Regions from separate parts of the Homo sapiens genome. Here region 2 is linked to region 1. The links come from fine-mapping of genetic effects on gene expression. A gene starts in region 1. The other region holds a variant in brackets. All regions are shown on one strand. Distances are from middle to middle.

Region 1 (2,913 bases):
ACTGTGACCCCCATCTCTATAAAAATAAAATAAAAATCGTATCCCTGTAATCCCACCAATTTGGGAGGCTGTGGTGGTAGGATCACTTGAGGCCAGAAGTTTGAGACCAGCCTGGGCAACACAGTAAGACCTCCATCTATACAAAAAGTTTTAAAATTAACCAGGCATGGTGGCGCATGTGTGTAGTCTCAGCTACTTGGGAGGCTGAGAAGGGAGGATCATGTGAGCCCAGGGAGGTAGAGGCTGCAGTAATCCATGATTGCACCACTGCACTCCAGCCTGGACGATAGAGTGAGATCATTAACAAATAAAAACAGTCAAGCTCTGTAAAATATTTGAAGAGATTTATTCTGAGCCAAATATGAGTGACCATGGCCTGTAACACAGCCCTCAGGAGATCCTGAGAACTATGCCCAAGGTGGTCGGGGTGCAGCTTGGTTTTATACATTTTAGGGAGACATGAGATGTCAATCAAATACATTTAAGAAATACATTGGTTCTGTCCAGAAAGGTGGGACAACTTGAATTGTTGGGTGGAGGTTGGGGGCTCCCAGGTTACAGGTAGATTTAAAATTGACTGGTTGACAATTGGTTAAGTTTATCTAAAGATCTGGGCTCAATAGAAAGAAAATGTCTGTGCTGTGATAGGAGGTTGTGGAGACCAAAGTTTTACCATGCAGATGAAGCCTCCGGGTAGCAGGCTTCAGAGAAAATAGATTGTAAATGCTTCTCATCAGAGAGGTATAATGAGTCCTGTCTGACCTCTACTTTCCATCATGGCCTGAACCAGTCTTTCAGGTTAAAAGTACCCTGGCCCAGGAGGAAGTCCATTCAGATGGTTGCAGGGAGGGCGGGGCTTAGAATTTTATTTTTGGTTTACATCCTGTCTCAAAAGAAAAAAAAAAAGAATAAAAGAGTTTTTGGTTTACACCCTGTCTCAAAAAAAAAAAAATGAAAGAAAAGAAAAATCTCAAGGACATCTAAAAGCTGATAAGACAGAAATTACCAGGCCAAAAATAAAAGGGAAGTAGAATGCAGAAAGGGAAAAAAAACAGAATGGAAGCTGCTTTTTCCCTGAGAGCTTTTTCAGAACCTGAAAATCAGAACTTGTTTGAGCCTCCCGGAGACTGGTGGAGAAAGAAGTCCAGCCAGGCCCTGCCCAACTCTAAAGGAAAACCCAAACTTGTCGATATTTGATGAGACTATAAATCGCTTGCCTCTTTTCACTCTCTGGTGCTCCAGCAGCACAGCCCCACACCAACCTTCATCTGGAGTGTCTCAAGACCTTCTGGAATCTTCTCCCACACATACCTCCTTACACAGGTCCATTCTGTGAAAATAAGCAATTCAAAATCTAAGCTGTTGGAACTTTAAAATATTTCGAGCCTTAAGGGAATTTGATCATGGGACCTGAGTCATGTAAACAGGCAGCTGCAACCTTTGTTTCTCTGATTATAGATTAGCCTTTTTCCTTACTTACATTGTTGTGTAAAATGTCGTATATGACTGAAGCGTTCCAGGGAAGACCCCTTTCCTCTTCACTGTTGATCTTCATTATAGATTAACTCCCTCTTTCCTCTCTGACAGAGACTTCATGACCATCACATTGTCTGGGATAGAATGTTAAACACATTCTTAAATTGGAAAGGAAATGAAAACAAGCTGTAGAGAAAAGAAAACAAGGTGGAGGCAGGGGAACAACCTATAATTAATTATAGGTTGTAACTCATAAACCAGCCTTGCATAGAAAATGTTAAACAAGAAAGTTAAAACAAGAAAAGTTATACAAGAAAATGTTCTACAAGGTTACTAAATGTCTTTGCTTTCTGCCTATGTAAGCAAGACTTTAACTTTTAACTTCAGGGCCCTGGCCCCATTTTCCTAGAGTCTGTGTTTCTCAGATGGCCATTCCCAGCTTTTGGCTTGAATAAACTCTTTAAAACTGGATTCTGGGCTGGGTGCAGCGGCTCACGCCTGTAATCCCAGCACTTTGAGAAGCTGAGACAGGAGAAATCACTTAAGCCCAGGAGTTCGAAACCAGCCTGGTCAATAAAGTGAGACCGATTAAAGAGAAGTAAACTTAAAAACGAACAAAAACAACTTTGTTTTTAAAACTTAAAAACTTAAAAACAACGAAAACCCTGGATTCTGATCCTTTCAATTACTTTATATTGACAATTCTACTATGGGTGCTGCCCAATCAGCCTTGTAAAGCACAGGGCTGACCACTTCAACTCCCTGCTGAGGGTTGAATCTGGAATAAAATCCAGATTCCAGAGCTACGGTGCCCTTAGATCTGGGGCTGTTGCTTTTGTACTTCTGTTTTTCCACTTTACTTAGCTGAAGCACAATCCCTACAGCAAGCTAAGAAAGGAAAAGGTCCATTCCAAAACCCTTCGCTCCCTAGACCACTGCTCTGTGTGCAGACAACGAAAACAGCCGAGAGTTCACACAAAAGGGAAGGACTAACTGCCCGGGGCAGGCTTCAAGGAATGCCTGTTAAGCCCCAGGGAGGAAGTGGCTGTTGACTTGGGAAGAGTCCGTTGGGTAGTCAAGGGCTAAGGTGGTGGTTGACATGAAGGCAAATTTTCCATGCCCTGGTGAGAAGTTGGAATCCTTGCTGTGAACGTTGGGTAGTACAGTTTGCAGGACCATTTGCTTGGCTATTGGGTCCCACCTGTTGACAGGTGCCAAGCCTGATTTTCCTTGGCCTTCCCTCCTGATTTAGCTGAACACCAACCTTCTCAACACAACCCCGAAGTACACCTTGCTCAGTTTTTAACAGAGCTGCTAGATTTCAAGGCATGATTCTCAGCACTGTGTCCGGAATTGGTGGGTTCTTGGTCTCACTGACTTCAAGAATGAAGCCGTGGACCCTCGCGGTGAGTGTTACAGCTCTTAAGGTGGCGTGTC
Region 2 (2,913 bases), 15 kb before region 1:
CAGGTGACTCCATACACCTGTCTGCCTCTGCACTTCCAACCCCAGTGGGGTCTTCATCCCTATCCAGAGGAGGCTGGGGAGTGAGGATTGGCTTATCCAACTCTGGCTGAGGGCAGCTTCTGGAACAAAGAGGCTGCTTAGAACACGCCCATGGAAAGAAGTCGAATTGAATCCATCAGAATTCCCCACTTGTTGATGCTGGAGTGAAGTGGAGACATTCCATTCCATGAGGCCCATTTTGTAGATGGGGAACTAAGGCTAGAAAACATGTCCCTTGAGCCTTGCTTTTAATGATGACAAAGAGACAGCGGTGTGTAGTACAAAAGGCCTTGAACCAGAGATGCAGAGATCTGGGCTTTACTTGTACCTCTGTCAGGGACGCCCTGGGTGACTGCAGACAAGCCACTTATTCTCTAAGTTTAGGAGAAAATCAGAAATTGCTGATTCATCACTCACTCAGCAAACATTTCTGGAGCCTCTTTGACGTGCCAGGCCTGGGGATAACTATTGAAATATGTGGGCTCCAAACTGTAGCCAGATCACATCACGGAAGTTGGGTTTGGCCCTGCGGCCACCTGTCCGCGTGGCTTTCGGTCACGTTTTCTCACTTGCTGTGTCTTCTTCACATATGTGTAAATGAGAGAAAAGAAGGGCCTGTTTTTCATGCTGCTGTGCAGTTTGAATAGTAACGTAGGATGTGCACAGAGCAGCCCTGGCCTGCAGAGGCTCTCAAGCTGTAGACAGCATTGGTCAATGGACTGCTGCAAAGAACCAGCAACAGGCAGGACATGCAGTAGATCAGGGTCTGGAAACACTTCGTCCGAGCCACACACCTCTGGAAACTTAGCAGGAAGGCTTAATTTGAAACATTTGTGATCATACTTCAGGATGTCACTTGTAATTCCCGTGATCTGCAAAAAGGTGAACGTTCACACTCACATTTAATAGCTTCATTCTAACATCTCGGGTACCCCATAAATACATCACTCTGCACCCACAAAAATTAAAAATAAAAAAATTTTAAGTTGTTTTATGATATAAAAATAGCTTGAATCTAACCAAACTATAGACAAAATCATGAGTTTGATATTCTGGTAACTTTTTGGAAATACATAAATGCATATTAATCATTGCAATTCTCTATCTTTGCAGCAGTTATAGCCTATCGGGGAAAAATTCAGAAAAATAGAAAAGCATTATAGATGGGATGGAATCATTAACAAGAGGTAGATTATGAAAATTTCCAAATGAGGGGCATGAGTAGTAGGGGTGACCTGGGCTTCCAAAGGTGCCTCTGGCCACAGAGTGAGGCAGGAGATTCCAGGTGAGCCCAGACAGGAGCAAGGAGGGGGTTGGGCTTGTGACCAGAGCTCGAGTCTGGGAAGGGCCTCCACTGGCCACCCTGAGCACAATGAAGGTGTGGTACAATACCCAGCAGGGGCCTCACCACGTGCAGACATGGGCCCTCACCCCCTCCTGAGCTTAGAGCCCCCAGGGAGGCAGGCAGGAAGTGGTGTTTGCAGACAGCTTTCAGCAGAGTGCCCAGCAGGTGCCCTTTGTGCAGATGGTACAGTTCCCAGGAG[C/A]TCTCTCTCAGTGCCCTGCCCTCCAGCCCCACCCCTGGTTCCAGGGAGGGCCACACTAGGGCAGGATCCAGCAGGACAGCAAGAAGCCAGCTCCCTGCCTGCCTGACTACAAGGTGCCTTTTGGCTCTCAGACAGTGCAGTAGTGGAGCAGTGGAGCTGCAGCCAGCCAGAACCCGGTTCAAATTTCAACTCTGCCTCTTACTAGCCGGCTGACCTGGGCACTTTCTTCCTTTTCTGGCCTCTGTCTCCTTTTCTGTAAAACTGAACATGAATATCTGTCTTGTTGGACATTGCATCCACCCGATGTTTACTGGGCATCAGTTAGGAGTTAGGCATTGTTCCTGCTGTGAGATCCCACTGATGCCTGGGGTGACGGATCATCATACTCAACAGAGCTTTCATTTATCAAGTGCTTCTTCTATACCAGACCCGGGATGAAATGCTTTACAGCTAATATCTCGTTTAATCGTCACCAAAAGCCAAGCAGAGGTCGAATCATCCCATTTAACAGTTCAGAAAAAGAAGTCTCATGAGGTGAAACAAGCTGCCCAAAGAGTTTCAGCTTAGCACAGCACAGCTGGGATGGAACCAAGGCCTGTGGGACACCAGCCTGCTTCCCAGCACCTCCCAAGGGGTCCACACCTGGGACATTCTGGGGAAATGCCTGGGATTAGCCAAGGTCCTTGATCCCCTTCCCACACTGCATTGCACACAGGACGGGGCACATTGAGTGTCCATAACCAGTCAGGAGTGACTGGTGGAGGCTTGAACAGCGTGACCAAGCATTCCACCTCACATCAGGGGTCCTGCCCCTAAATCTCAGCGGGACCGCAGCCAAGTGGCTCCCTGACTGGGCCTGGGCAATGAAGAGATGACAGTTGATAAAGATCTTTGGAGAGTTCTCAGAGCACTGATCAAACATAGAGTCACCATTTGGATCAGAGGGAGCTCGTGTTGCTGGCCTTGGATGCTGGCCTGCCACTCTCTAGCTTTGTGACCTTGGGTAAGTGACTTAACCTCTCTGAGCCTCAATCCAACTCAGTTTTCCTGTCTGTATTCCAGGGATAGTAGTAATGCCTTCCTGACAGAGCTCAGAGGTTAAAGGAGATGATGGAGGCAAAGTGCCAGAGCATGGTGCCAGGCCCCAAAGGGTGCAATGATGTGATGGGATCATAAGAAGAGCGGGTATGGTGGCAGCCCCATTTCCCTGCATCCTCCTGGCTCCAAGCATGGGAGGCAACACCCAGTAAACCTGTGGAATTGAGTTGAATCTACCAACCCCAGATAAGAACCCATGTGCAGTGTCATGAAACCACTTGCAGTTATAGGG

The links.
Region 2: its variant is fine-mapped to the expression of TCL6 in whole blood (TOPMed, PIP 0.91).

The regions. Positions count from the first base shown.
Region 1 is chr14:95,650,794-95,653,706 of GRCh38, reverse strand. It overlaps TCL6 (T cell leukemia/lymphoma 6), which reads right to left and starts at 1,610. Exons shown (of 8, transcript NR_028288.2): 1 at 1,481-1,610; 2 at 1,218-1,330.
Region 2 is chr14:95,666,124-95,669,036 of GRCh38, reverse strand. LOC124903372 reads right to left here. Exons shown (of 2, transcript XM_047432042.1): 2 at 1-911. The coding sequence ends at 540. All of the region lies in intron 4 of TCL6 (T cell leukemia/lymphoma 6), which reads right to left. Among named protein-coding and RNA genes, the nearest start is that of TCL6, 15 kb to the right of the region's middle. RefSeq lists an enhancer at 1,677-2,323. The variant C/A (reference allele first, on the strand shown) is at 1,584.